Regions from separate parts of the Homo sapiens genome. Here regions 2, 3, 4, 5 and 6 are each linked to region 1. The links come from fine-mapping of genetic effects on gene expression. A gene starts in region 1. Each other region holds a variant in brackets. All regions are shown on one strand. Distances are between the middles of the regions.

Region 1 (5,036 bases):
CGCCTCGGCCTCCCAAAGTGCTGGGATTACAGGCGTGAGCCGCCGTGCTCAGCCCAACTTCACCAGTTTTTAGCGTGCAGCTCCGTGGCATAAATTACATCTGTGATGCTGAGCGGCTGCCTCCGGACTCGTCTTGTCTAACTGAAACTCTGCTCACTGAATAGGAACTCCCATGCCCTCCCCAAGCCCCCGGTAACCACCATTTTTACTGCTTTTTAATGTTTAAAAAGGAAGGATGAACGGGCTAGGGGAAGTGTAGCAATGTAAAACCTACTTCCTTCCATTTTCAAAAACCCGGCGAGTCCTCCTGGTTGCGGCAGCTGAGAGGGAAGCGGAGGGGATGACCCGGGCGCTGGGGCCTGCAGGCCCTGTGTAGGGCACCGAGCTGGCCTCCACCCAAGGAAAGCAGGGGACACGCTTGGACACGCACAGAACTCTTGGCTGCCTGCAGGGCTCTGGGCAGAGGACAGCCCCCTTGTCTGGGAGGCTGTAATTCCGAGGCCAGGGCTGCCTTCCCAATCACCTCAGGCAAGCAAATGAGGCAATGAGAGAGGGGACAAAGGCCCTGAGTGTCCCGCCTGTCACCATCAGAATGCAATGCGTGCCCCGCCAGTGTCCAGCTACTCCTCAGTCTGCTCTCCCAGCCACCGGCTCAGCCCCAAACCCAGGGTCATCCTGCTGGATGGTTCACAGCGGCCCTTGGGGAGGGCGTCCACACATCAGGGTCCTAGACGACCCTGCTCTCAGCCCCACTGACTCCACCACCCTCCTCACCCAACTCCCTGGGTCCATCAAAAAGACAGACTTTTCAAGCTTCGGTCAGTTAAGAATCAAACTCCATGTCACGACACATGTCACCACACACTGCCAGGGATGGACCTTCCAGCCTTCACCACCAGGGATGGGCCCGGGCTACACTTCCAGCCTGCGCCTGCACCGGGGTAGGGGTGCCCTCCGCGACACAGCGCCAGGGACGGGCCCGGGCTACGCCTCCAGCCTGTGCCTGCACCGGGGTAGGGGTGCCCTCCGCGACACACTGCCAGGGATGGGCCCGGGCTACGCCTCCAGCCTGCGCCTGCACCGGGGTAGGGGTGCCCTCCGCGACACACCGCCAGGGATGGGCCCGGGCTACGCCTCCAGCCTGCGCCTGCACCGGGGTAGGGGTGCCCTCCGCGACACACCGCCAGGGATGGGCCCGGGCTACGCCTCCAGCCTGCGCCTGCACCGGGGTAGGGGTGCCCTCCACGGCCACATGGGCAGCCCCCGCACTGCACTGAAGAGTGCTCCACTGTACACCAGGGTGACTTCATCTCAGTGACATCTGCAAAGAGCCATTTCCAAGTAAGGTCGGGTCCACAGGTACGAGGTGGACATGAATTTTGGGGGAGGACACTATTACCCAGCACACGCCCAACTTACAGATGCAGGAACCAAGGCCCGTCTACACACTGAGCATAGCTCCAGGCTGCACCTCAGGCCAGACCCGGGTCTCCCGACACCGCCCACCTGCGTCTCACCTGCACCTTCCGTCCTGCGTGCTGCAGCCGCGCATCCCCAACCAGACGGCCCCTGCCCTCCCCACTTCTAGCTGCCCATCCCCACCCCCTCCACGGTCCCTGGAGGAAGCCCAGCTCCTCAGCCTGCAGCCCAGCCGCTCTCCCCAGGACCAGCCCCTCCACCTGCACCTACAGGCCCACCCCTGGCAGCCCAGGGCCCCTGCAACTCCGAGCCATGCGGCCCTCTCAGATCGGCCTCCTCCCTCTCGGATGGGCCTCCCTCCCTCTCAGATCGGCCTCCCTTCCTCTCGTCCTGTCAGGTTCTGAGGGGCTTCCTGGGAGGCTCCTCCTCTTGCCGGCCCTCCTGACCAGGCCAGGTTCTCAGGAGGCCTCCACCCTTCCTCACTGGACCCCTGGCCCCGGGCTGCGCAGGTGCTTTACCGGTGGGGTCTGGCCTGCACCCGGCCTTGGGAGGGAGCCTGCCTTTCAAGATCAAGATGGCTCCAGAAGAGCACGTGGTAGCTGGGACCACTGCCCCAGAGAGTAGCAGCTTTTCCCAAGGCTGGGGCTTCCACTCAGATGGGCCCTACCATGTCCCCCTGCCCCCTGCCCCCTGCCCCCTACCTCCGTCTGTCTCAGATACATCCAGAAACACTCTTTCACTGTGGCTCCTTCAGGTCCTGGCCCAGAACCAGGATGTGCTACGAGGACCCAGGAACCATAGCCTCCAAGCCGCCCAACACCAGCAGGCACGGAGAGGGTGGTGTCTGCTGCCCTGGAGCCTGGAGGACTCCAGTCCTGTGCACCAGAGCAGGGCAGCAGGGCTCACCACGGCTGTCCAGGTTCTCCCAGGATCCCCCAGGCTCAGGGCGGCGCCCGGCCAGGCTCCAGGCCCTCTCTGCAAGCAGGACGGAATTGGGCCAGCCAGCCCTGGAACACAAAAGCATGCTGCTCTGGAAACCGCTGAATTGCTTCTGGACACACAAAGGCAACAGTGTCTAGGGAACCCTGGACTCAGAAACCGCAAAGGACTTTATTTCCCCTTCCCCAGCCCAAGATTTAAAAAAAAAAAAGTGGTTCCTGGTCTCTGGCGCTTGCCCTGAGCCGTGTCTCCTTCACACCATCTCCCCTGCTAAAGTTCCTCTCCGAGTTCTGGGTCCCTGGATCACAGCTGACCTCCACATCAGGGCCCGGCTGCTGGCACGCCCTTCATCCCCTTATTATCTGGCGGCTCTCCTGCTGATCCTGGGATAAACAGCATCCGCTTTCCCACAGCCGCCAGCCCTCCTAAGCAATGTCCCTGGGGGACTCGCAGATGTTGAGCGACACAGACACACCTCCCCCACCCCCACTGCAGTGGGCCCCAGCCCCCACCTGGCCCTCCTCCAAGTCTCAGTCCTCTAGGGAAGGTAGCCCCTAAACCTCACTGTCAGAAAGGCCTGGATGGAGGTTAGACCAGCAGCTGGACAGCCAACCTGGGCAGCTGAAGAGGACGTGAGGATGGGGCAGCTGGCAGACTCCAGGGCTTTGCAGAGTGAACAGGAGGACCGGGGGCGGCCAGCAAAGAAGGCCTGGTTCTACCAATACCCCATCGCCAGCCAGGCACCAGGGCTCAGGCCTGTAATCCCAGCACTTTGAGAGGCTGAGGTGGGCAATGCAGTGACACAGAAAGTGAAATAAGAACATGAGCCAGCGTGGTGGTACGTGCCTACAGTCCCAGTTGCTCAGAAGGTTGAGGCAGGAGGATCGCCTGGGAACCTGGGAGTTTGAGGCTGCGGTGAACCACGATCGTACCACTGCACTCCAGCCTGGGTGAGGGCCAGACCTTGTCTCTAAGAACAAAACAAAAACATCCACCCCAATGTCCCCATGCTTACAGCCACATACTTGCACCTCCCTAACTCCTGATGCAAAGAGGCCCAAGGACCCAGCACACACACAGCTCCCTGGGCCCTCTGGGGTCCTGAGACTGCAGATCCTGCCCTTCCAGCCCGTGCCCGACCTTGGCCACTATTGTTCCAACATCAGCCTCAAGAGGTCGGCTCACAACTGATGACATGTGTGCTGCCCCAAACTCAAGGCTTGTCCAGGAGTTTCATCCCCTCCCTGGATTCAGGCCTCAGTCCTGCCAGCTGGGCACAGTCAGGCGGCCTCAAATGCTGATGTCCGTATCCGGGTGTTTGGCTGCTCTCAACCCTGCCCCCTGACCTGGCCTCCCTGCAGGCTCCAAGCCGGACAGCTCACCAGTATCTCAACTATGCCACGCCTGGCACAGACTCGGGTCTCAAGGGGCACTCTGACTGGATGGCACCGTGTCCACCAGCTGTCTGGGTGAAACCCTCAAGAGCCCTTGATAGCCCCGTTCCTCACTCCACTGCCAACCTGCAGCGCACGCCGGCCGCACGCCTCCAGACGGGGCTGCACATCTGTCCACCTCTCCCCACGACCCCAGCCTGGTCCAGGCAGCCGCGTGCCTCCCCTCTCCCCACCACCCCAGCCTGGTCCAGGCAGCCGCGTGCCTCCCGAAGCCTTCTCCACATGGCAAGCATGGTGAGGCCTTCAAAGGCAAAATCAGCCTCTGCAGCGCCCCTGCCAAAGTTCTCCAGGGGCTTCCACGCACCCGGGTCAACACGGCTGCTCCCCCGACACCCTCATCAGCTCTGGCTCATCTAGGCTTGGCTGCAGCTCTGCCGACCCCCTTTGCAACCCTCCGACCACCGCCTCTGTCCCCACTGCAGGGCCCGACACGTTTGGCTCCGGGACGTCGCTCATTTGCCCCATTCCCTAGGCGCCGCCCGCTGTCATTCCACCATCCTGTTTGGTTTGACGTGGGGTCCTTGGATTGCCCTGATGGCTTCCTTGTTTAGCGCTTGTGCCTCCAGTCCTGCTTGGTTAGAACCCGCCTGGTGCTCCCCCGGGGCAGGGGCTGTGTCTGGCTAAGTCTCCAGGGGCTCGGCTCTGCCGGTGATGCTCAGGTGGACTCGAGCTGCAGGCACCCGAGTCTCCCTCTGCAGAGCTTGGCACGTGGTGGGCAGTGACAAACACTTGTTCAGAGAGTGAGGGAGCGACACACAAAGGCAGCCCAGATGCCACGGCTGGGGGGTCCCCGCCAGCCTGAGCCCGCAGCCACCAGCTGAGCTTTCTTTCCTCTGCCAGAGGCCTCAAGAGAAAGGGACACCCATGGACTAGGGACACCCATGGACTCTGCCTTGGGCCCTGCCAAAGCACAGCGTCCCTGAATACACAAAAACTTTTAACTACAAGCCTTCAGTGATCTGGGATGTTTCTCCAGGAAGAAACCTGAATTCCTTCCCTTGGCAAAGTATCTTCAGGCTTGAGTCATACGAGGGTCAGGCTGGAACCCCATGTGGGGAGCTGAGCCTTCTGCACTGTGACAGGGAAGCCACCCAGGGGGGCCAGGGAGCGGGCCCAGGGCTAAGCACACCCTGGGGTGCTAATGCCAGCACGGTGTATGGCCCGCTCTGGGGCCACTTGCCAGCGTGGCCCAGGAGAGACAGTCAGGAAGACTGGGAGGGCCAG
Region 2 (5,036 bases), 41 kb before region 1:
TGGGCGCCACGCAGAGCCGCTGGTACTCACTGAGCCGTCTCATATTTTCAGTTAACCTAAGAGAGAAGGGGAGAGATGGGAGCCCAGGGTTAATGCACCCGCCGGCTCTGCAGTCCCCACTGCCCGGTTCCGTTGGCTCTGCAGGGGCCAGGGAGGACGTCTCAACAGCCTGGGACCCCTTGAGTGCACAGAATGGCCATGCACGGCGGCTCAGCACAGCAGGGTGCGCCGGGATGGCCCTCAGTGCCACTCCCCAAGTTAGGAAGGCAGGGGCGACTCGCCAATGAAATCGTCCCCTCATCTCCTGCCTGTGTCCCCAGAACAGAAGTCCTCAAGGGCAGGGCCTTTGCTGACCTAGCTCCCTCGGGACCCCCAGGGCCTATGGCAGCACCTGGCAGGGGAACCAAGGTTTACTGATGGGACTCAAGAGCCAAGGAAGGCCCCAGGCAGTGGGCTGAGCCCCATGAGTCCCCACACAACTGTCACAAGCCACAGCTGAGAGCAGTGCGCGCATGCAGCTCTGCTGCACCTAAGCGGGCCTCGCAAGCCCCTGCCAGGCACGGCCCCCAGAAGACCAGACACAGCGGAGCCTCCAGGAGCTCTCGGCAGCCTCACAGACAGCTTTGGCCCACGGTGATAAAGGATGGCCCACCCGCTGCAGCCTCAGCCCAGGGACCGGGGCCCCTAACGCACAGGCAGCCCCAGCTCGGCGAACCCCTACCTGCGGGCGCTCAGGGGTTCCTCTGTCTCCACAGTGTTCTCCTCGGGCTGGAACCGGAAGTCCTCCACGTACTCCCCAAACCGCTCGTAGAACCACTTCTGCAGGCGCGAGGACAGCCCCTGGCTCCGGCGCTCTGCAGGGGGCAGGGACCCGGTGAGGGCACGGCAGGGCTGCACTGCCTGTTCTGGGGTCGGCTCCGGGATCTCAGGGCAGGGAGGGGCCTCACTGCAAGGGCGCGGCCAGCAGAGGCACAAGGAATGCTCGGGGGTAGGTCAGGGAAATGAAGGGTCCCTGTACAAGGGACTTTGAAGGGCTCAGTCCTCTGAAGACACCAAGTGCAAACCAACCGGCACACAGCAGAGCTGCCCCAGCCATGACGACCTCAGTGCCGGGTCTCTCTGCTTTTCATCCCTGTCCCCAGCTCTCTGCCCGCCCTGGGCTCTCGTCAGCGGGCAGCCTGTCCATCCAGGCTGCTCGGCCCACCTCAGACGTCTGCATCAAACCCCCTTTCTACCTCCGGGTTGTCAGAAAGCAGATGGAGAGGTCACTGCCCCAGCCCTGCATATCCTGAGCATCAGCCAATGGATGGCGCAGCGGGAGGCTGTGTCCTGGGCTGGGGGTGCCTGGCGAGCGCAGCCAGCCCAGGGTGAGCGCACGGTGTTGTCGTGCTGATGACCAGCAATGTTTACCAAAAGCGAACACCTCTGGAAAGCAGCCTCCACGGCGGGAAACCGGAAGAATCCCTCGGAAGGGGGGCTCAGGGGTGCAAGCCAGTCCCTCCCTTCAGAAGGCCAGTGAGGAGCCGCCTGCAGCGGGTGCTGCCTCGCCAAAGTTTTGGGCCCTGGGACCAGAGGGCCTGTGGTCACCATACCCAGGGGGCTGCAGGCTCAGGGCAGAGGCTCAAGAGCCACAGGCCAAGGGGGCTGAGGTCTGTGTACCCCAAGGCCACCCGGGCAGGGAGGATGGGGCCAGGGCAGGCTCCTGCGGCTTCTTCCCGCCCCCAAGGCAGCCTGGCAGAGTTTTTAAGGGGAGGGTCCAGGTGAGATCGGCACACTCGTCCCAGCCGTAAGTGAACCGGCCCGGCTGTGTTCCCATGGACTTTATTTATGGACTGAAATTTCAGGTTTATATTACGTTCTCATGTCATGAAATGAAACCATTTAAATCTGTGAAGCCAGGCGGGGGCTGGAGTTTGCTGACCCCCAGGTACAGGGAACTATGCCGGCTGCCTGCAGGGCGTGGGGCAAGATAAAGAACAGGCACTCAGGGATGGAGGACGAGGAGAGAGATAAAAGGGCACATGAACCCCCAACTCCCCACTCACAGCCAACCATAGCCCCACTGCCCACTTGGTCCCCTTCGGGGAGGCACCAGGGCAGCGGCAGTGACCAGCGTGGCTCTCACATCACTGTTCCGTGGGGCAAGGCTGAAACAGAGTACGTGTGTATTCCCCAAAGAACACACAATCACGCTTTAGTTGAGTGACTGGAAATTTGTGATGACGACTATGATGACTCACCACTTCGCATCAGAGACACTAACCCAGTTCTGACGGGAGGAGATTCCCGGATGCCAGCAGGTGCCTGGGCACAGAACCAGCACCTGCCGCCTGCCCACCTGCTGGGGGAGGGGGTATCTGCTCCATTGTTAACCTGGGCCTACAGAACCAGCAGGTGACGCGCAGCCACCCACCCGCCCGCCTGCCTGTCCACCCGCCCACCAGGGTGTACCTGCTCCATTGCTGGCCTGGGCCTGCCCTTTTGGGGGCTGCTGAGCCATCTGCTCCTCGGTTCTTAAAAAGCAGGGAGAGAAGAGACAAGAGGTCTGTTAGTTCCAAACTCCATGCCCAGTCAGGCACCCCCGAGGGCTCTCGCGACC[G/A]TGTACTGCACAGGAGAGGTCAGGGACAGCAGGGCTCTCTCCAGAGTCTCCACTGCTGAAATGCTGGTTCCGAGCGTATCCAGGCAAGCACAGAGCTGCCTTCCTAACAGGCACACGTTTTGTTTTTAAACAACCAGCATCTTTCACCACTCTTTCCTTTCCTATTCATTTTAGCACACTTGCTTCTTTCAACATCATTAAACTCAGAATACTCTCATATCACCAACCCGTCTGCTAATGAAAAGATACTGATCAACACACATGTGTTTATCAGGCACCAAGCCAGGCCACAGGCTGGGTGCCACCTGTCAGCAGCCTGTACCCAGCTCCCAGCTCAGCCTACTCCAGCGACCTGCCTGGACTGGGCAGGGGCACTAGACGGCCACTAGGGTCTGCTTCCGTCCCACACCCAGCCCCTCCAGCCAAGGCCTGTGAGCAGGTGCAGCACAGAACCGGGCCAAGTGCTGTGTGGTCGCCCCTAACCTTCCTAACTCTTGGGAAGCGGGAGTGGGGAGGGAGGAAGCTGGGGGAGGAGTAAACCCTGAGAAGAGAACAGAGGGCGGAGCACAGGGCACACAGGGCACGGCCAGGTAAGCAGCGGGCAGGAAGCAGACAGTGAGGTTTTCAGGGGACTTTGGATCCACAATGGAGAGAATCTCTGCCTACTGACAAGTAGCCTTAAACCAAGGTGACTTTCTGAGAATTTTCTTAAAAACCAAAATAGAGGTTTGCATAAACAGAACTGCTGTGCTTTAATCCTGCAGCTTCAGAGTGTGTGGTATGTGTGTGTGCAGTGTGTGCGCACATGTGTCTGCATGTTTGTGTGTGCCCTCACACACCTACCCACCCTGGACAGACCACAGCCACCCAGACCCACCCCAGATCTGCACCAGGACGACAAGGAAAGAGGAGGTCACTCTGCCTGGGACTGCTCTTCCTTCACCCCTCCTCCTTCAGGCTTCCAGAAGGTTCCTAAGCGCCGCCCCCATGTAAAGCAGGGGAGAGCCCTTAATGCTCCCAGGACCTTCAGCTTCCACTTCCTGGGTCACAGCCTGGATGTTCCTTCACTGCCCATTCCCCACCCATTCCCAAGGCAGAGACTGTGCGAGATGGGGCTCCCTGCGTTCTTACAGCTGACCCGGGCTGGGCACACCTGCCACCAAGGGGCTTTGGTAAAAGATGAGGACCAGATCCTGGAGTGGGGCTGGCGGGAGTGAGAGGATGGGAAACAGAACACAGGGAGCAGGGCCACGGGGACAGCCTCAGGCCACCTTAGCCACCGGGGGAGAAGCAGCGTCCCGTGGCGGGGATGGCACTGTGGCCAAATGCCTGGGGACCGCACCTGTCCCTGGGATCTCCCAGCGTGGCAGGTCAGGTCTCTGTTGCAACTCTACATAATTAAATGTAATTTAAGCTTTGAGCTTCTGTGGATTTTCCCAGAAGGTTCAGCATCAGGTAAAGCGCCTGCCGAGGCCCATGCACCCATTTCTGGTCTGGGAGGTTCTGCCAGGGCGGAATAGGAAAGTGAGGCCTCTCCCTCCCCCACACCAGCTGGATGCCCCCACATGAGCCCCCACATGAGCCCCCCAGGGCACTCCACAAGGTCATGCTGACCTGCAGGAGGCGGGCAAGGAAGAAGTGGGAGTCAGCCCAGCGGATCCCCCGTCTTCCCACACACTAAACCTGAGGGTGCTGAAGGGAGCCGCTTCCTCAGGGCCAGCTAAGCAGCGACACTTGGAGTCCTGACAATGACACACGGCCCCCGGAGCGCTCATAGCAGGCAGTGCTCAGCTGGGGTGTCCCAGAGATGCCGTGTGCCTCCCTAACTGGTGACAGCCATCCATGCAGGTCATGGGGGCCACAGACAAAGGTGTGGCCAATGGTGGTGGGAGGCTGAGGTGGGAGACCTGGAGGGAGGCTAAGTGGAGGCTGGAGGGAGGCTGAGTGGAACCTGAGTGGGGAGGCTGAGGGAGTGGAGTCTGAGGACGGAGGCTGAAGATGATGCTGGGGGGAGGCTGGGCAGAAACTGAGGGTGGAGACTGAGGGGGGAGGCTGAGGGAGTGGAGGCTGAGAGGGAGGCCGAAGCAGGAGGCTGCTGGAGTGGAGGCTGAGAGGGAGGCCGAAGCAGGAGGTTGCTGGAGTGGAGGCTGAGCGGGAGGCCTGGGAGCCAGAGGTGAGTGGCCTGAGCTCCCTGGCCTCATGTACCAGGCACCAGTTTGAACTTGTGCAGAGGGACACGGAGCCTCGTGGTGTTAGCGAGACAGGAGGGCACTGGCTTTGTAACTTGCGCTGGGGTCCTGAATGACCTGCTTCCTGCTGGCGGCACTGTGAGGCGCAGGGCAGGGTGAGGGAGGAGACTGTGAGCACTCAGGGTCCCACATGGGACCCACAAACAAGAGCAAAGATGTCAGGTGCAGACATGCCTCTCTAGGAGCCA
Region 3 (5,036 bases), 33 kb after region 1:
GCTGGGAACTCTCAGACACCCGCTTACTCACCTGCAAAGCAGGGGCAGCATGGGCCCTTCCAGGGTCACTGCAGAGGTGGCAGCCACCCCCCACATCCCCTGGCCCCAGCAGGTCTTCAGATAATAGGGCCACCCACTCACCTTCTCCCTGGGCAGCCCTCCCCATCCCCCCAAACAGCCCAGCCCCACACTGGGCCATCTGCCCTCGGGCCACGTGAGGCACAGCCCTCACACCCACGGCTCCCCCATATCAGAGCTGCCCCCACACCCAGGACTCCCCCACATATCAGAGCTGCCCCCACACCCAGGGCTCCCCCACATATCAGAGCTGCCCCCACACCCACGGCTCCCCCATATCAGAGCCGCCCCCAAACCCAGGACTCCCCCCAAGAGCCAGGGCTGCCCTCTTTAACAAGGCTCCAGGGCTTTCGGGAAGGCAGCAGCGACTGGAGGGACAAGGACACTGAGCCAGGGTCTCCCAGCTCTGAAAAGGTCCTCCCTGGAGCACCAGCAGGCTGGGGAGTGTCGCCCATCCAGGTCCCCCCGCCCCCTGCCGTCCCTGCTTCTCCCATCAGTACTGACGAAGCACCTGCTGCGTACCCAGCCCTCTGCCCAGCGCCACAGTTACGAGCTGTGGTTGCACTGCCACGGGCCAGCACAGGACATCTCAAATGTTTAAGAGAACTCTGCTGTCACCAACCTTACTGTGGGAGGGGGTGGGGAGACGCTGGCAGAGGCTGGGTCACCAGCCCCAGGCCCCACAGCTATGACAGGACCTGAGAAGAAAGGCTTCGGCTCCAGCCCAGCCCAGCCTGGGCCACATCCAGGCTCTGCCCAGCCCGGACCGACGCCAGTGTCACATGCCCTCCTGAGACCTGTGTCAGGGAAGCCTAAGGACCCCGGGGATGGAGAGGGCGGTGCTGGGGCTCCTGGATCAGGCCGGGGAAGGAGGACGGACGAAAGGGTGGGCACCCCGCAGCTCCAGGAGCACTGGCCACCCCTGCCCCCCAGCCAGGAACATCTTCAGATCGCTCATTCTCCAAAGGCAGCTGATGGCTAAGACTGCGAGGGACAGGGTGGGGCCTTGTAAAAGCTTAGAACGTGGCTGGCCAGAGGCCACAGCTCCCCTCTTGCCCTCTGTAGTGGTTTGACCCACTCCGCAGATACCAATATGAACAGCACTCGCCCGGGGAGGGTGCTCCAACAAGCCAGCCGGGTCTGCCCCACATCCACAGAGCTCAGCAGGCCTGCCACCTCCCTGCCCTTGCGTGGTGCTGCCTGGAGGGATGGAAGACGGACAGCCAGACAGGGACGGAGGTGTGCTGACCTCAGCTCTGCCCCTCCTGACCTACTGGCTCCTCATCCATCGGGTTGTGGGGGACGCTGGGCAGTCACTGGGGTTACCTGGCTTCTCCCATGCTCCTAGGTTCTCAAAGCAGATGGGGTGGCTGGGGGTGACCCCCCAGGGCCTGCCTATCCTGAGTCACAGCTCTAGATGTCCGGTTTAGAGAGAGACTCTGGGACAGAGCCCCCGAAGGCGGCTCCATGGGGCTCCACCAGGGCTGGGGCTGTCCCAGAGTCTCTCTCTAAACCCGACATCTAGAGCCAAGTAGACACCACCCACTCCCTCCCCGCCTGTGCCCCTCCTGACCAGGCCCTGGCCCCCTGGACCCTCAGGCCTTTTGCCAACCTGTGATGTGAGTGCGTCTGCCCAGACGGGGAGGATCAGGAGCCCTGTACCATCCTCCCGCGGCCCCACCCCGACGCCCGGGCTTCTGGCGCACACGCCTGTTTCACTTCCTCTCCACCAAACATCTGCCACCTCCACTGTTAGGCAGGTCAGGCTCCAGGGGCCAGCAACGACCACCAGTCAGTTCCACCTGTTTCAACCCTACCTCGGGCCAGTGCCTCTGGGTCCCTCCCTCCTGAGCTGGGGTTGGCTGAGTGTGCCTGCCTAGGCTTCTCCCACAGGACAGGACAGGACAGGACAGGACGGAGCCTTGCCCACTGACCCCCATCCAGCCCACTGGCCCCCCGCCCCGGCCTGGGCTGCCTGCCAGGTATGCTGCTGGTGGAGGCCCTCCCCCTCAAGCCTTTGTCAGACCCTGACTATCCCCCTAGTTGGAAGAGAAGGGCTACAGAAAGCAAGCAGAAGACACAAACCTGGGCACTGAAGCCGGAACAGGACCCCAAACGGCCTCCGCCTCCCAGAGCTGATGGCCCAGTGTCACTCCGGACGGCTGGGCTTTTGGAACAGACTTCCCCTTCCCACCCCCACACACTTAAACCTGACAGTTTCACTTCTTGGGTGGAGAATGTGTGAAATGATTCACACACCTTGCTGGGGTCCAGCAGTGGCTGGGGACACAATGTCACCTTCTACTCCGGAGCCCCAGATCACTGGCTCATCACAGCCCAGCGGGCACACACGCTCCACAGATCACAGGGGCCTCCACTCTCACAGGGTCCACTCCTGTTGTCAGCTGAGCATTCCCCCAGGGCAGGGGATAATCTACTTCATCAGGGTTCTGTGGCAAACAAGAGCCACTGGGCGCAGAGTGGGCTGAGAAAGCATGCGAGGAAGTAGGCGACCATCAGCACGGGCTTTGTCCAGCATCACAGGGTAGTTACGGTCCGGTTCTTCCC[G/A]GGTAAGAGGGTGGGTTCTGGGACACAGACGGGGTGTGGGTGTTGCTTCAGACTTTTAAACGCCAAACTCCCCACCCAGGGGCCAAGGTCTACACACACCTTTCTACCTCTGCCCATCCAGGTCCCAAGTGCCCTCAGAGCTGCAGGGCCTCAGCTCCCTCCTCATCAGCTGCAGGGCAGGAAGACAGAGGACCCTGCAGGCTGTCACTGCTCAGGCCAGGCTCACCCCAGGGCCGCTTTCCCCAGCAGACAGGTAGGGGTTCCCCCCAACTCATGTCCCAGCAGGGACAGCAGCCAGTCGCCCTGAGAAGCTGAGACCCCACCAGCGATTCCGCCACACCAGAGCTCTGGGTGCAGTAGGATACCTGGCTCCTTCGTCTGCCCCCTGAAGGCCCTCGTCTCTGTGTCATGGGGCTAGGCCCTCCCATGACCCCCACGTTTCCCCAACCCTATGGAGTGTGTCTAAGGAAGCAGGTGGAATTGGCCTGGCTCCCCCAGTCTGGGGCCTAGAGCAGAGCCCGGGGAGCCAGGGAGCCCTGGGCTGGGGAGGGGAGGGCAGACAGAGGAGGGGACAGAGCCCCTCCGAGCCAGCATCACCCGGCAAATGCCTCCGACCATCGCACCGGACTGAGCCAGCCCACCAATCTCAACCTGGAAAGCAGGGAGGCGCCAGTGGGGCCCAGTGAGGATGGGGGTGGGGCACGTGGGGCGGTGGGGAGGAGCCAGGGCAAGGAAGGAGACACGGTCAGCAGGAAGGCAGGAGGCTGGCCCCAGGTAAGGGCATAGGCAGGTGAGTGGGCCACCCCCTAAGCTGCATTCCCAAGAATGCTGGCATCCCCAGCGAGGGCAGCCCTGGCTCCCCGGGCTGTGCTCTAGGTCCCAGACTGGGGGAGCCAGGCCAATTCCACCTGCTTCCTTAGACACACTCCATAGGGTTGGGGAAACGTGGGGGTCATGGGAGGGCCTAGCCCCATAGCACAGAGACAAGGGCCTTCGGGGGCAGACAAAGGAGCCAGGTATCCCACTGCACCCAAGACGTGGCTGAACCTCAGTCCTAGCCCCAGAGGAGCCGCAGGCACATGCTGGTTGGGTCTCCAGGAGCCTTGCACAGAGGCTGACCTTTAACAAGCTGACCTGAGAGGCCGGTCTCAAGCCATCCCCACTCCTGTGTCCTATAAACTCCTGTGCCCCTCCCTCATCGCTCCAGGGAGCCCTCCTTGTCGCTCCCTCCCTGGCAGGGTCAGGCCCTTCCCCATCCCATAGACCAGGCTCTCTTTACCTTTCCACCTCCCACAAGCTCCCTTCCACCATGTGTGCCCTGAAGGCAGAAGCATCATTCAGGTGCCCCGGACAGGTGATAAGAGGCCAGCACCCCTCATGGGACCGCGAACACAAGGGTGAAAGTCTTGTATTCCAGGCAAGGGCCTTGGGGTGCTGTGACCGGAGGCTTCCTGGGTCTAGGGCCGAAGTTAACCCAACATCAAGAAAACAAGACAGGCAGCCGGGCGCGGTGGCTCACGCCTATAATCCCAGCACTTTGGGAGGTGGAGGCAGGCGGATCACCTGAGGTCAGGAGTTTGAGACCAGCCTGACCAACATGGAGAAACTCCGACTCTACTAAAAATACAAAATTAGCTGGGCGTTGTGGTGCGTGCCTGTAGTTCCAGCTACTCGGGAGGCTGAGGCAGGAGAATCACTTGAACCTGGGAGGTGGAGGTTGCAATGAGCCACGATCACGCCATTGCACTCCAGCCTGGGCAACAAGAGCAAAACTCCATCTAAAAAAAAAAAAAAAGAAAGAAAGAAAAAAGACAGGCTCCACTCAGATCCCCAAAATGCTGCCTGGAAAACACCGCCGACAAACCAGCAGACGAGGAGTGACCACCTGGTTCTCTCTCTTCCCAAAACTTCTGCAAGGGCCTGACGCATTCCTGAATGAAAGATGCTTAACAGAAAGCCCAGCAGATGCGGCTCTGTAGATCTTTTCAAAGGCCGTCCCCTGCCAGGGTGGCAAGTTCAGAGGCAGAGAGGGGACAGACCTGGCCAGGATGGAGTCGGAGATTTGTCTGAGCTCTAAAGCGTCCCGCCGGCAGCCTTTCTCCTCCTTCCCCGAGGAGGCCGGACTCTGGGATGCGTTCTAAGTCAGCCCCACTTTCACGTCTCAAAGCAACGCCAAGCCCGTGCCCGTCCCTGCGGGGCCGGGCTGACTAAGCACAGCAGGGAAGTCCCTGGTTCTCCTGCAGCCTCCCTCCCTTCTTCCCTCTAAGTCGTGGAATCATGTTGGGGAGGTGGCGGCCCCTCCCCAGCCCCAGCCAGCCATGCTGCGGCAGCATACCGGGAGCCCGGGCTCGAAGCCAAGGGATCGGGAACTGCTTCCCGGGGGGTCCCAC
Region 4 (5,036 bases), 27 kb after region 1:
ATCAGGGCGCCACCTCCCCTTTCCAGACACAGGGCCAGGCCCATGGGCTGCAGGATGAGAGTCCCTTGGGTGGGGGACCTTTGTGGCATAAAAGGGAGATTCACAACCCAGGAAAATAAAGTCGGAAGAGACACTATGTCCAGAGGCAGCCAAGTGAAACACCAGTCCCAGTGGCCAATCTCCCCCATGTCCCCGTCTGGATTGTTCCAGAACCCTGAGGCGTGCAGACCCGCTGCGTCGCATGGTCTCTACCTGTAGTTAGTACCCACGCCCACCCTGGGATTGAAAACGTGCCCCTCTTGGGTGCCTGCCACTGACTTCACTTCCCCCACCCTGTGTGTCTCCAGGGGAAAGGCACACTCTCCCCCCGGGCCGCATGTGGGGCTGGGATGCGGACCCAACTTTCCTGCTGCTTTGCCTCGACGCCAGGCCACGCAGTCCACAGGAGGCGGGAACGACAGGTACCTCGGTGACTGGGCACCGCACTCAGAGCAGCAGAAACAAACCTGGTGCAGTCAGAAAGCCCAAGTCCCGATGCACTGGTTACCAGCAGCGGACACAGGCACAGCAAACCACAGACAGCAAAACTTAGTGCTGGCCGGGCTGGAGCCACTCCAGAGCGCTTCAGAACATGTGGGGCGCCCCTCCTCACCCCCAACCCCAGCTCCCCGTGCTGCCCCTCCCCCAGGGTTTGCAGGGCACCAACCCTCTCCTCCCTCCTAGGAGATGCCACCTCACCTGGGACCAGGACAGCCCCAGCCTCCATCTCCAGTCCGGCCCTCCTAGCCCCCCAGGGCAGGACAGATGCCAGGGCCAACTGTCCTGAGACCAAGCTCCACTTTACCCCTGGACATCTCTGTACCCAAAGCCTCCTAAAACACCTAACCCCCCCCACCCAACCAGAGGTCCCTCACCACCCACACAAGCAATGCCCCTTCCTCTACCAAGGGCCCCCCAGAGGGCCAGGAGCCTCCCCCTACCCCAGCCCTCCTCTGGCCAGTGCTCCCGCCACCCCACAAGTGCCAAGGATCCCTGAACACACCTGGCCCCTCACACCCATGTGCTTGCATTCCTGCCCTGGCCTAGAATGCTCTTTATCATCACCCACCATACCCACCCCACCCGCCCACTTCCACCTGTCCTTCCACAAAAACAGGGGCAGGGAGGAGGGGCCCACCAGGCAGGTATGGCCTGTGGGTAGAGCTACAGCAGGTGACAGTGTGGACCCAGGCAGAGAAAGGTGTGCATAGGGTGGTGGGGAAGGGAGAGCACAGGACACACAGAGCTGGGGCAGGAGCCGGGCGTGGGGCAGCTGGGGAGGGGCTGGCGGGATGCTGGGGTGGGGCTGGCAGGATGCTGGGGAGGGGCTGGCAGGATGCTGGGTATCAAGGCTGGCTTCTGCTTGACGGTGAGCCCAGAGGTTCCCATTACATTATTAAAAATAACGAAAATATGGCTGGGTGAGGTGGCTCACGCCTATAATCCTAGCACTTTGGGAGGCCGAGGCGGGCAGATCACCTGAGGTCAGGAGTTCAAGACTATCCTGCCAACATGATGAAACCCCATCTCTACTAAAAAAATACAAAAATTAGCCCAGGGTGGTGGTGCACGCCTGTAATCCCAGCTACTTGGGAGGCTGAAGCAGGAGAATTACTTGAACCCAGGAGGCAGAGGTTGCAGTGAGCTGAGATCGCGCCACTGCACTCCAGCCTGGGTGACTGAGCAAGACTCCATCTCAAAAAAATAAATAAAAATAATGAAAATAGACAAAAGAGGACTATGCACAGACGCCCAACAGCAGCACAGACCCCAGGCCAATGACGCATCCCATTCTATGCCCCGGAAGCCCAAATGATGAAAAAGGGAAGAGGTCTCAGCCCACAAGCCTCCTCCCTTAGAAGGCTGCCCCAGCACTGAACAGCCTGCTACGGGAAGTCACTTAATGCAACACTAGCCCACCTCTGCCCGCCCGCCATGGGACTCTCGGTAGGCCCTGCGGCAGGGGTTGGGGGGCGGTCCCACCTGCCCTCCCTGTGCGGCAGGCCCAGCGGAGAAGAGGCAGTCAGAGAACACCTGCCAAATGGCCAAGAACAACAACGTCCCTTTCACCGTCCAGCTGCAGAAATGGGGATGTCTCTCGCCAAGACCGCCTGCAACAAGGGCCGCCCGCAAGGAAGCTTCTGCTTGATGTGAGGTTCCGGGGAAAAGGAACCAGGCAGGGGAGAATCCCGTGATGGTTCATCAGGCCTCAAAGTCAGAACTTACGACTTTTTAAACGTTTCAGTACAATTTACCTTTCTGCTACTGGTACTGGTAAAGAGGAAAGGTCTGCAAATCAAATAACAGTAAACAAGATATCGATGTTACTTAAGCAAACACGTTACTCTCAAGTATTTGAGAACGGTGTGGATAAAACCAATTCCTTTTATGTTTTTGTTCAAATGCTTTCTTTTCTGAAAGCCCGCATGGAGAGTTCTAATTTAGGTTATGTTGGTGAACAAAAATAATCACAATGTGGGGTTTATATCTTCTAATTATACAGAATTTAGGACAAAATATTCATGTAAGTGATTCTGGAATACTTCATAAATAGGTCATATAGGCTCTTTTTATTGCCAAAATTCTTGAAACTCAGTGCAGCAGAGTCATTGTCTCCATGTGGAACTGAAAGCAAGGCAGGCAGCCAGCAGCCCCTCCACGATGCCGGCCACATCCTGGAGGTGCCGGGCG[C/T]GGTGTCAGCCAACAAATCAGCCGACACTGGGGTTTTTAAAGCCCCTTGCAGAGCTGGTCACCATACATGTGGGCCGCAGAATTCCAAGACTCTCGGGAGAGAAATTTTGCTTCTGCAGGCGTAGAGGATGTGGTTCCTCCCTGGTGCAGTCGGAACAGTGAAAACATTCAGGAAAGTAACTGAATCGAGCCCCTCCCGGCTGTGAATGACTGAGTTCACCACACAGCCACAGTGGGGCTTCTTCACCTTGCTCGCCATGACTCAGTGCTAACAGCCCACTTCATCCTTTTTTTTTTTTTTGGAAACAGGGCCTCCTCCCTATGTTTCCCAGGCTGGCTTCAAACTCCTGGGCTCTATGGATCCTCCCGCCTTAGCCTCCCAAGGAGCTGGGACCACAGACACGCACCCCTGCACCCAGCTCTGCTGTTTTTAATCGTACAATTAAGCAGTCAGTTATTTAAAAATACACACTTGCCCAACTTAAAAGAACCACACTTATTTATCAATTATGCCAGCTGGGCTGGTGGCAGTAGCAGTGGGCCTCATTCCCTAGGGCACTCTGGGGGCGCAACCCTATGGGGACTGTCCCCCAACTATGGCACCACCTAACCTGAGCCCCGGTGGCCCTGCTGAGCTGGGCGTCAGGATGAGGTCTCGACTCCCGTGACATCAACCAACTTTCCTGGAATGTGCCGTGATGCCCTTGACAAGTGTGGGGACTTGGGGGCGAGAGGGAGGGCCTTGCTGTGTCAAGCCTGCAGGCACAGGAGGGGACACACCAGTCCTGGGCTGGGCCCCAATGTCCACTGATATCACAGATGCTTTCTGACTGTCCCTGGGCATGGCTAACTGAGGGGTGCGGGGGCTGAGGGGTGCGGGGGTTGGCCTTTCTGGGTTTTTTTTTTTTTTTTTTTTGAGACAGAGTCTCGCTCTGTCACCCAGGCTGGAGTGCAGTGGCTTGATCTTGGCTCACTGCAACCTCCGTCTCCCGAGTTCAAACGATTCTCGTGCCTCAACCTCCAGAGTAGCTGGGATTACAGGCACCCACCACCACACCCGGCTAATTTTTATTTTTAGTAGAGACAGGGTTTTGCCATGTTGGCCAGACTGGTCTCCAACTACTGACCTCTGGTATTCCACCTGCCTCAGCCTCCCAAAGTGCTGGGATTACAGGCGTGAGGCACCGTGCACGGCCCGGGGGTGGCCTTTATGAGGGATGCAACCTAGGACTTCAGCAATGTCCGTTAGCCTCTGCCTCATGGAGCTTCAGTAACGTCGTCCAAATGAATTTGGTAAATCTGTCCAAAACAACAAACCCCAACTCCCACCTCAGCCTCCCAAGGAGCTGGGACTACGACATGCACCACCACACCCAGCTAATTTTTTATTTTTAGTAGAGATGGAGTCTCACTATGTTGCCCAGGCCGTTCTCAAACTCCTGAGCTCACGCAATCCTCCCCCTCTCAGCCTCTCAAAGTGCTGGGACTACAGGCATGAGCCACTGCACCCAGCCCTGTTAATTTCTGTTTAAGTCCCTGAAGAGAGAATTTAAGATAACGAGAGATTTCACTATCACACACTGGACCCCGCGGCTGAGAGGGCAGCAGTTTCCCACCTTAGGCCATTCCAGGGCTCTTGCCTTCTCTGGCTGTTTTTTGGGTTTGTTTGTTTTTTTTTCTTTTTCTTTTTAGACAGAGTCTTGCTCTATCACCCAGGCTGGAGTCCGGTGGCACGATCTTGGCTTACTGCAATCTCCGCCTCCCAGGTTCGTGCAATTTTCATCCCACAGCCTCCTGAGTAGCTGGGATTACAGGCACCCACCACCATGCTGGCTAATTTTTGTATTTTTAGTAGAGACAGAGTTTCACCATCTTGGCCAGGCTGGTCTCAGACTCCCGACCACAGACAATCCACCTGCCTCGGCCTCCCAAAGTGTTGGGATTACAGGCATGAGCCAGTGTGCCCGGCCTCTGGCTGTTTTTATAAACTAGTAGTGTCCATCGTCCTTAGCTGTCCTCAGACAACACTGTGGACTCTCCCCCAATCTCTCTGAGCTCCTCCTCCCCTCACCCAAGCACGCCCTGGCGGGACCTCTGCTGCTCTCTCCCTCCCCTGTTGACACTCACCTGGGCCCAGCCCGGGTTTCTCCCCTCCCATTCCCCTCTACCAGGCCACCAAACCAGGCCAGTCACGAGCAACAGGCAGACACCAGCTGACTGGGTGTTAACGGCAGCAGCCCAGGCCTGGTCACACACACAGTGGCCCAGGTCACCTCCTCCTTGGGACGCGCTCCTGGCCAATCCCA
Region 5 (5,036 bases), 21 kb after region 1:
CTCCTGACAAATCACACCCCGAGGAGAGCTACAAAATGTCGGCACCCCTCTTCACTAATTCTTTTTTTAAGTAGTGATTTTTTTTTTCTTTGAGACAGAGTCTCGCTCTGTCACCCAGGCTGGAGTGCAGTGGTGCAATCTCAGCTGGCTGCAACCTCCGCCTCCCAGGTTAAAGTGATTCTCCTGCCCCAGTCTCCCGAGTAGCTGGGACTATAGGCACCTGCCACCATGTCTGGCTAATTTTTGCATTTTTAGTAGAGACGGGATTTCACCATATTGGCCAAGCTGGTCTTGAACTCCTGACCTTGTGATCCGCCTGCCTTGGCCTCCCAAAGTGCTGGGATTACAGGCATGAGCCACTGCACCTGGCCCCAAGTAGTGATTTCTTTTTAAAGAAAGACATGTTATTTATGTTAACATGTAATAGATTTATAGTTGCATATTTCAGTAAATTAATAAATCTTTTTAAATTTCTTAGTTTTGATTTCTAATAGCGAGTGGCAATGAATACACCCCACATGCACAAAGACTCGCCAGTGTCCTCCATCGCTTGAGGCTGTAAGGGGCTCTGCGACCGGGGCTTAGCACCTGAGTGTACAGGACGCACCTGCCGCCTTGCTCCGCTGTCTCCTCCATGCCTGCCTGTGCACTGTCTGTGCTTCCCCCACTCAGCATCCCTGTCCCTCTTTTGGTAAGGACCCTGCTCTCCACGGGGAATTACCCATCCCATGGTGAGGGGCTGCCAATCACATGCTCTGCCTCATCACGGGAATGAAGCCACAAGGGAAGCAGAAGGAGGCGTGGAGGGTGAAAAAGCACCACGTCAGAAGAAGGGGAGACCAGCGACCCAGCCAGAGCACCCCAAGCAGCTCCATACCGCAGGCCCCTGGCCCCAAGCTGGCAAAGCCCCCCTCTGCTTAAGCAAATCTGTGGGGGCCCTTTCCATTTTGCACGCTCTCTCTGATGGGGCTTTAGGAGACCCTCAGCAGTGGCCCACATCCCACCACTGGAACAGGGTGACAGCTCCAGGTGACAGCTGCGGGCACTGGTCACAGGCAGGTGATTCTCTCACAGAAGGGCACAGGTGTCACCAGCCTTTAAAAATCGAGGCATAAAACAGTCGATTCCCAAGACAGACACCTCAGGAAGAATCCTTTTATGACTAAAGGACTCTTCCACTCTCCGCAGGACCCTTTGACAAATAACCAGCAAGCTTCCTGGTGGCCTTAAGGTCAGATGAGATTCACAGTCAGCCACTCGACAGACAGTCCTACAGGGAGAAGGTGCCGCCGGTGGTGAGACACACCTGGGATTCTCACTGACTCAGGACTAAGGAGTCCCCACGTGGGGAAAGCCTTCCGATGGTCACTTTTCTGCAAAAGCAGTCACACCTCACAACACGCCTTTGCTCCAGCGACGGCGACCATGGAACTCGTAGGCATGTGGGGCCATCATGTTCGATGGTGCTGACTTGTGGAAACATTTCAATCTCCATCTTCCAGACAGAACCAAGATGCTCATTTCAGAGAATGGAGCTAATACATTAAATGCAGGTTGCTAGGTAATTTTTCACTAGGTAATTTTAATTCTCAAAAAAACTTAAGTATCAGCTGGGCATGGTGGCTCATGCCTGTAATCCCAGCACTTTGGAAGGCCGAGGCGGGTGGGTCACCTGAGGTCAGGAGTTCAAGACCAGCCTGGCCAAGAGGGTGAAACTCCATCTCTACTAAAAATACAAAAATACAAAAATTAGCCGGGCATGGTGGCAGGAGCCTGTAATCCCAGCTACTTGCGAGGCTGAGGCAGGAGAATCACTTGAACCCGGGAGGTAGAGGTTGCAGTGAGCCAAGATCGTGACACTGCACTCTAGCCCGGGGAACAAGAGCAAGACTCCGTCTCAAAAAAAAAAACAACTTAGTATCTAAAAGCACAACTATGAAACGACCAGCTCAACGTCTGAAAAATCACGAGCCATCTGCAAATTGCGTAACTGACAACGCAAGCACTCTCACACACAGGCCCTGTCTGCGCCCAGGGTGGCTCAACAGCAGAAATATCTGACCCCCAGTGG[T/C]CCCATCTGTTAACAAAGGCTCCAAAAATCTACTTCTTGTGTGCTAGGGGTTCTGTCAAGGACTTGGGATGTCCTGATCTGATCCTCCATCTCTGTCACGGCCTCTGTGTCACACAGTTCCCTGGGACCCCCATCCTCCTCCGGGGGTGCTGCAGGGCACTGAGCTGGTGGGCACCGGAGGCCACCAGAGGAGCTCACAGTCCCACCACCCCCAACCCTAGCCCTCTGGGTGCAGGGCGGCTCCTGTCTCCTGTGTTACCCTCTTCCCATGCATGTCCCCTCCTGGTTCCCCTTCTTTCAGTCCCAGCCTGAAACCCACCATGTAGCTGCTAAGCGTGCTCTCCAGACAAGGCCAGCTCCATCCTTCCCCGCTGGCCCGCACGGATTTTGAGGACTTGGCTTTCAGTGTCAGCTCCTAGTTCCAATTTCGGGTATACTTGGCCCTCAAGGAGCTCGGAGCTGCACCACAGGCCCTGTCTGACCTCAGGGTCTCCCCACATTCTAAACAAGCTCCTTCCCCCAAGCAGACCCCCATATACCTCAACTAACCAGAAGCTACCACCTAGACCCACAGGTGAGCCAGGAGCCGGCAGTCAGCAAATCACAGCAAATCAAGCCGGTAACCAGAACTGCTTTTCTCCAAAGTGGGAGAGAAAGCAACTTAGAGGCGTTCAGGCCAGGACTCATCCTAGACAAGGTCTTACAGCTTGCTCAATTAGAATCCTCTGGCAACAAACACCGAGGTGCAAATAACCAGTCCATCCACCCCTCCCTCCCGCTCTCCATCTCACAGACACTCCCTCACTCCACTTACCAGAGCAGCAAGACACCCAAACATCTCCCTAGAATTCTCATTAAATTTTCACCAAAAAAACGCCACCCAGCCAGGTGTGGTGGCTCACACCTGTAATCCTATCCCTTTGGGAGGCTGAGGCGGGAGGATCACTTGAGGCCAGGAGTTTGAGACCAGCCTGGCCAACATGGAGAAACCCTGTCTCTACTAAAAATAAAAGAATTAGCTGGGCATGGTGGTATGCACCTGAAATTCCAGCTACTCCGGAAGCTGAGGCATAAGAATCACTTGAACCCAGGAGGTGGAGGTTGCAGTGAGCTGGGATTGTGCCACTGCACTCCAGCCTGGGCGACACAGCAAGACTCTGTCTCAAAAACAAAACAAAACAAAAGGCCGCCAATGCCAAAACCTAATGGACTAAAAAAATGCCACCTTGTACAGTGCTCTAAAGGCAAGTTCTACAAGCAGATAATGGTAAAAACAAAACAAAACAAAACCAACGTGTCACCTAAACTTGCCCCCAGAAGGGTAACTTGCAAATCAAACTGTACTTGTTTTTGTCCTAATTAAAACCATGCCAGAGGCCGGGCGTGGTAGCTCATGCCTGTAATCCCAGCACTTTGGGAGGCCGAAGCGGGCAGATCACGAGGTCAGGAGATCGAGACCATCCTGGCTAACACGGTGAAACCCCGTCTCTACTAAAAATACAAAAAATTAGCCGGGCGTGGTGGCGGGTGCCTGTGGTCCCAGCTACTCGGGAGGCTGAGGCGGGAGAATGGTGTGAACCCAGGAGGCGGAGCTTGCAGTGAGCCGGGATCGCGCCACTGCACTCCAGCCTGGGCGACAGAGCGAGACTCCGTCTCAAAAAATAAATAAATAAATAGATAGATAGATAAATGAAACCAGGCCAGAAAATCACCTGAAACTTGAGCAAGAGAGAGAGAAGGAGAGGTAACTACCACCCAAAGAAGTTCCTCTGGATCTAAAGAAGATTCCAACTCACCACATCATCTCATCCCCATACGCCTTTGGGGGCTTCATAGCATTTTCTCCTTGGGGGAACCTAACCTCCTAAACATCCAACTTAAACAAACCCTCTTTAAAACAGCCTTGCTTAGCAGTATGCCTCCTGCCAGGAGGGACACAGGGCACTGAGCAGGAGCTGGTCTGTGTGCCACCTCCAGGGCCTACACCTGGCACCTGCAAGTCTCCAGCAGCCAAGGAAACCTCTCGCTCCTGCTGAGCCACTTTGCAGCTCTCCAAAGGACCCAAAGGTCTGGCCGCCGATTCCCAGGGGAGGGCAGGACTTATCGAAAGCAGGCGTGGAGACCTGGTTTAACCAGTCCAGCAGGTTGACAGATGGATGGACGCTGAGAAGGGTGGCTCCCGATCCCACCTGGAGGCAGCAGCTAAGCCAGCCCTGCAGCCATCCAAGCTCTGCAAAGGAGTGGAGGTCTCAGTGACAGGTGGAAAAAAGGCCCCAAGAGGACAAAAGAATGCTATTTTTAAAGCCTAATCTGGGCCAGGCATGGTGGCTCACACCTGTAATTGCAGCACTTTGGGAAACTGAGGCCAATGGATTACCTGAGGTCAGGAGTTCAAGACCAGCCTGGCTAACATGGTGAAATCCTGTCTCTACTAAAAATACAAAAATTAACTGGGTGTGGTGGCATGTGCCTGTAGTCCCAGCTACTCAGAAGGCTGAGGCAGGAGAATCACTTGAACTATGGGGATGGAGGTTGCAGTGAACTGAGATTGTGAGATCGTGCCACTGCACTCCAGCCTGGGCAACAGAGCACATGAGACTCCGTCTCAGAAAAAAATAAAAAAGGCTAATCTCTAAATTCCAAAAGGAAACAGGATTCTATCAACTGGTTCAACTGAGAAGAGAAAGGCCATTCGAGCCCCTTGCCAAGCACTCAACAGCCCAGGAGGCACCAGCACCCACCCACAGAGGGATGGTGACAAAGACTTCGGGACTGTGGCCAGATGGCCCTGGAGTCCCTGCAGGACCCTGCAGAAAGGGCCGCCAGGGACATCTGTCATCCTGGCCACACTTACGTCTGTGGAAACTGATGGCTATCAGCCTCATAAATGTGATTTCACCAGTTAAGACTCCAGCCCCGATGGCACGAGCCAGCAGCCAGAGTCCCTATCCACGGGAAGCAGGGG
Region 6 (5,036 bases), 46 kb after region 1:
AGACAAGGCCTGGAGGCTGTTTTTGCCCAGCCCTCTCTGCCTCCCCCTCCCCAGACTGGGTCCCCTGTGCTCTGCCCCGCCCTTCCTGTGTCTCTTGCCTGCCCCAGTGCCCTGCCCTCAACTCACTGACCTTGGGAGTCCCACAGGCATCTCCAACCTTTCAATCCAAAGACTCCAGACCTGGATCCGCCCTCCCCACTTCCTTCTGTCTCAAGGGCCCCAGCTCAAGTGCACCTGAAGCTCCCTGTGGCAAGATTCAGGGCCTCTCTTTGATCCCCCTCCAGGTCTAGCCCTGATGGACCTGGGTTAGAGGCAGGCACTCAGGTGAGCTGTACTTCTCCAAGGCTCAGGTTCCTGTCTGCAGAACTGGGGACCCAGTGATTTCAGGGTAAAGGATCCAGCGCTTCCGCAAGGGCTGCCCAGTGGCGTCTGTCCTGTGCCTCCGCAGGCAGCATGGGGTGCGATGGCGCGCTGTCTGCAGGACCGTCTCTTTCCAGGATGGCGGAGATGACTCACATTTGTGCCCAGAGCCCCCATCCAGCACCAGGCCTGACCGCCAGACCTCTCTGGCTCCCCCTCCCCGCTGTCCAAACCCTCCAGGCTTTCCTGCCTTATCTCTGTCCTCCAGGGAAACAGGATTTGTTTTTCCCAAACACAAGCTCTACTTTCCTGCCTACCGCTCCCTACTCTGGCCATATCCTCCCAGGGGTACCTGCCCTACACTAACTCTACCCAGCCTGCCAGGCCCAGCTCCAGAGCTGCCCACTCCAGGAAGCCCTGAGCCAGCCTGGTCAGAAATGAACCCGGACTCCACCTGCCAAGGCTCTGGGGGAGGGGGGGGGCCCTTAGGGCACCTCCTGCCCCAGCACTGTGACCACATTTTAATCGTTTTCATTGTTGATTGTGCTCCTTCCTGTCTCCTCTCTCCACTCTCCCTGACAGCCCAGGTGAGCTGCTCCTGGGAGCAAAGGCCCAGAGCTTTCCTGTGCGAGTCCCTCGCTGCTGTCCCCACATTTCAAGACCTTGGCCAGGCTGTGTCATTGTCCGGGTCATTTTGTACACAAATGACTCACCTCAGCCAAGCCCCAAAGGCAACCTGTTTGTGCGGATGCAGCAGTGGCAGTCTCTCTGCCAGCAGGACACCTGCTGCTTCTCACCTCTCATCTCCGAACCTCTCTGCTTCTCCCAGTGGAGAAAAAGCCTCCATCCTCACAGCAGCGATCCCAAAGAGAGACCCCCTCCTGCCCCACACCCCTCCACCAAGTCTCCTGGAAGGATTCTCATCGCCCTGCTTGGTCATGTGCCACGCTTGAGCCAAGGGGACTGCGGGGGCAGAGGCCAGGGTGCTGTGACTGGCAGTGCCATCTGAACCACTGGGGCTGAGGCAGGCAGTACCCCAACAGAAAAGGGGCTGCAGCAGACAGCGCGACACAGAGCAAGCGCCCAAGAAATGTTCATTTTGTGAACGGCCAGGATTAGGAGTGAGCAGGCAGAAGCCAAAGGGAAACCAGACGAGGGCACCCAGCATGCCTAGCCCCTCATATCTGGCCCACCCTCCAGACATTTGCTCGGTGCCCAGTCCCTGCTTGGTAGGGGCGCAAAACTGGTGCAGTGCAGAGAGTCAGACAGAGCCCCTGCCTGATGGACAGGCACGGACCACACACCCCACAAAGGGGGACACTTGATATTGCGTGGTGCCCACCACCCTGCTCCGTGGCTCTTCACAGCCATCCTATTAGCCCATTTACAGAGCAGCGTTTATGGCTGAATTGTGTCCCCCAAAAAATTCATCTGTTGAAGTCCTAACTCCCATACCTCCCAATGAGACTGCATTTGGAGACAGGGTTCTTAAAGAGGCGATGAAGGTAAATGAGGCCCTGAGGGTGGGCCCTAACCCAACAGCACATGTGTCCTCATAAAAGGAGGAGATGGGGACACGGACACACACAGGGGGGATTGCATGAGGACACGGAGAGAAGGCGGCATCTGCACTCCCAGGAGTGAGGCCTCAGGAGGAACCAGCCCTGCAGACGCATTGATCTCAGACTTTCAATCTCTGGAAGCATGAGGAAATGAAGTTCTGTTGTGTAAGCCGCCTGTCTGTGGTGTTGGTTACACCAGCCCTGGCAAACTCACACGAGGGCACAGGCTCAGAGTGGCCGCCAGACCCTAAGGGTCACATAGCTGGTGATGGCAAGGCCACCGCCAGCTCCCTGCTCCTCTGCTCAAAGCAGAACTGGACACAGGGATGGCGGGGCAGGGCTGCTCCGAGTGGGCACGGCGGAGCCCTGAGCTTGGTGGGTGGCCTGGGAAGGAGGCTTGGAGCCTGCTCACACCAGGGGCCAGCGGGGCCCTCAGACCCGTGCCTCCCGGCCTCAGAGCCTTGAGGGAAATCGGGGGCAAGATGACAGGACTCGAGAGGAACCAGTGACAAGTGGTAGCAGGGCTCTCCATATAGCCTGACACCCCCGCACTGTCCACTGGCTCCTCAAGGCCATCCTGTTATGTTTGTCTGTGGCCAAAGGCATGGAAATAAGTCGATGAGAAGCAGGG[G/T]TGTGTCAGGGGCAGGCCAATCCGAGTTCATATCCCAGCCCCCCCTCACCTTCTGAGACGGGACCTGGAACCAAGCAGGTGCACCTGGAAGGTTCGTACCTTGGCATGTAGTATCCAGGCTGTCACTCCACATGCACAAAACCGCATATTTTATTACACAGGACGCCAAGGCACAGAGGGCTCAGGAACCTGCCCGGGGCCACCGAGGAGAGGTGGGAAGGAAGCACTCCAAGCCCCGGGGTGTGCAAACTCTGGGTTCCAGGCCGTTCCCCACATCACCTCGTCGCCACCCCCCAGAGATGGCAGCACCTGGCACCAAATGGCACTGGGAAGTGCCGGCGGTTGCTATTTTCATCCTGATTAGGGGAGAAGGGGTGGGGCCAGGGCTAGGGAGGAAGGCCCCTGGATCTGGAGCAGTGAGAGGTTTGGGCGAAGAGTCCCAGGCTGGGAGTTGGGGTTCCTATAGGAGACTGAACAGAGCAGCAGCTGGTGGCTCTCAGCTCTGGGCCAGAGATGGCAGCGTCCCAGCCAGAGAGCTGAGGGGCCCAGTCCCACTCCTCAACAGTCAGGGCTCCCAGGAGGCGGCCTCACTCTCACCTTTGCTACCACTCCTGGCACCGGGTTGCTGCCAGGAATCAGTGGGAAGGTGGTGCTTCCTTAGCCCCTCCTGTGCTGACACCTGCCTCCCACCCCTGAAAATTCCAGGAGCTAGAAGTGTTTTAGCTCCAGATGCATCTGGGTCCTTGTGCCCTGGCATGGGAGGGTCAGCGGGCAGTCCACCCCCAGTCTCCCCTGCTACAGGCATGTGGGAGGCACCCCATAAGGGTCATGGCTGGGAGAAGGGATCCAGGACAACCTCATCTTTTTTATTTTATTTTATTTTTGAGACGAAGTCTTGCTCTGTCACCGAGGCTGCAGTGCAGTGGCTCAATCTTGGCTCACTGCAACCTCTGCCTTTGAGTGATTCTCCTGCCTCAGCCTCCCCAGTAGCTGGGACCACAGGCGTGTGCCACCATGCATGCCTGGCTAATTTTTGTATTTTTAATAAAGACGGGGTTTGGGTTTCACCATATTGGCCAGGCTGATCTCGAACTCCTGACCTCAGGTGATCCACCCGCCTCGGCCTCCCAAATGGCTGAGATTACAGGCCTGAGCCACCGTGCCTGGCCAACCTCATCATTTTTAGAGAATCGAACTGAGGCTGAGAGCACCCCAGGGACGAACTTATCCTGACCTCTCCTTGGTGCCAAGCCCTATGCTGTGGACGTGTGTCAAGGAGGAACACTCAAGAAGGTCCCCTGGCCTTCTTATCCAACAGAGAGGCAGAGCCAGGCAGGCAATGAAGTCACAGTGTGGTCAGTGATGAGACAGAGAGCCACAGAAGGCTGAGGAGGCTTCCTGGAGGCCATGATACTCTAAGAGAGGCCAAGGAGTGACCAGAGGTTAACTAGGATAAGATAGTAGGAAGAGGATTCCAGGCAGAGGGAACAGCATATACAAAGGCCTGGTGGGAAGAGAGAGAGCTCCACTTGTTCTGTTTAGCTGGGAAAAAGCAGGAGCTGCCATGAAGGACAGCCCATATCCCAGGGCAGGAAGGAGCCATGGCCGGGTCTCAAGCAGGAACAACAGGATCCCATCAGTGCTCTTCTGGGTATAGACTGGAGGCCTCTGGGTGATAAGCAGGTGGGAGGGGGTGCTGTGCTTTGAATATTTGTGTTCTATGTAAAATGTTTATCTAGAAACAGAGTGCTCATTCCCCAGTGCTGCAAAGAAACAGCACTCAAACATAAATTTAATTATCTCAGCAAGGCCATTTTTACTTTCTGCAGAAAGGGTGCTCATCGCAGATGGAACAATGGCGACAGCACACCTGAACAAAGGAGGGAAGCAATTTTTATCCCTTACGCGTTTGTCCCTGTTACTGTGTCCTGTCTCCGTTGGCTGCAGCCAGACCTCACAATCTAAACTAAAACCCGATTGGCTAACAGTTTAAAACTTTTCTAAAAAGGTAAAAGTAATGGAAAGACAAAGGAAAAGAGGAAGTTGCTTATGCCAAATAGGGAAGGGGCATAGGCTGCAAGCGGGAGCATGCCTGTGAGCAGGTACAGCACAAATATCTTGGTTAAGGTTCCAGGACATAGAATGTACTATGTTGACTGTGAGCATGTTTAGCAGCTACATAGGCTAGGGCTTAACAAAGAGTTATTAGCACAAAGCAAGGAGGCTTGAAGGAAGTTAGTTTTTCAAAGAAACTATTATTTTTAACACTTATGATTTATTTAACAAGAAGGGAAACTTTGAAGAGGAATTTTTACTTTCTACATTTGTCACCTCCAAAACTCATGTTGAAATTTAGTCCTCGGCTGGGCGAGGTGGCTCCTGCCTGTAATCCTAGTGCTTTGGGAGGCTGAGATGGGAGGATCTCTTGAGGCCAAGAGTTGGAGGCTGCAATGAGCCAAGATTGTGCCACTGCACTCCAGCCT

Direction of the effects. Positions count from the first base shown, and alleles are read on the strand shown. Sizes are in standard deviations (SD) of each study's normalised expression. Not every link is listed here.
For the expression in subcutaneous fat of the gene that starts at base 2,300 in region 1, allele G in region 2 goes with a higher level than allele A (small effect, 0.22 SD a copy in GTEx).

The links.
Region 2: its variant is fine-mapped to the expression of GRAMD4 in subcutaneous fat (GTEx, PIP 0.95).
Region 3: its variant is fine-mapped to the expression of GRAMD4 in tibial nerve (GTEx, PIP above 0.99).
Region 4: its variant is fine-mapped to the expression of GRAMD4 in whole blood (TOPMed, PIP above 0.99).
Region 5: its variant is fine-mapped to the expression of GRAMD4 in subcutaneous fat (TwinsUK, PIP 0.95).
Region 6: its variant is fine-mapped to the expression of GRAMD4 in pancreas (GTEx, PIP above 0.99).

The regions. Positions count from the first base shown.
Region 1 is chr22:46,617,650-46,622,685 of GRCh38, reverse strand. GRAMD4 (GRAM domain containing 4) reads right to left here and starts at 2,300. Exons shown (of 19, transcript NM_015124.5): 1 at 2,121-2,300. RefSeq lists enhancers at 561-1,072, 3,501-4,268.
Region 2 is chr22:46,658,858-46,663,893 of GRCh38, reverse strand. It overlaps GRAMD4 (GRAM domain containing 4), which reads right to left. Exons shown (of 19, transcript NM_015124.5): 5 at 2,452-2,513; 6 at 722-854; 7 at 31-56. Among named protein-coding and RNA genes, the nearest start is that of GRAMD4, 41 kb to the right of the region's middle. RefSeq lists an enhancer at 1,453-2,036. The variant G/A (reference allele first, on the strand shown) is at 2,600.
Region 3 is chr22:46,584,599-46,589,634 of GRCh38, reverse strand. It overlaps a transcript of GRAMD4 not described here. Among named protein-coding and RNA genes, the nearest start is that of GRAMD4, 33 kb to the left of the region's middle. RefSeq lists silencers at 1,460-1,509, 1,860-1,909 and enhancers at 2,400-3,387, 4,376-5,036. The variant G/A (reference allele first, on the strand shown) is at 2,647.
Region 4 is chr22:46,590,443-46,595,478 of GRCh38, reverse strand. It overlaps a transcript of GRAMD4 not described here. Among named protein-coding and RNA genes, the nearest start is that of GRAMD4, 27 kb to the left of the region's middle. RefSeq lists a silencer at 1,917-1,976. The variant C/T (reference allele first, on the strand shown) is at 2,731.
Region 5 is chr22:46,596,199-46,601,234 of GRCh38, reverse strand. It overlaps a transcript of GRAMD4 not described here. Among named protein-coding and RNA genes, the nearest start is that of GRAMD4, 22 kb to the left of the region's middle. RefSeq lists an enhancer at 1,804-2,303. The variant T/C (reference allele first, on the strand shown) is at 2,072.
Region 6 is chr22:46,571,173-46,576,208 of GRCh38, reverse strand. It overlaps a transcript of GRAMD4 not described here. Among named protein-coding and RNA genes, the nearest start is that of LINC02925, 32 kb to the right of the region's middle. The variant G/T (reference allele first, on the strand shown) is at 2,554.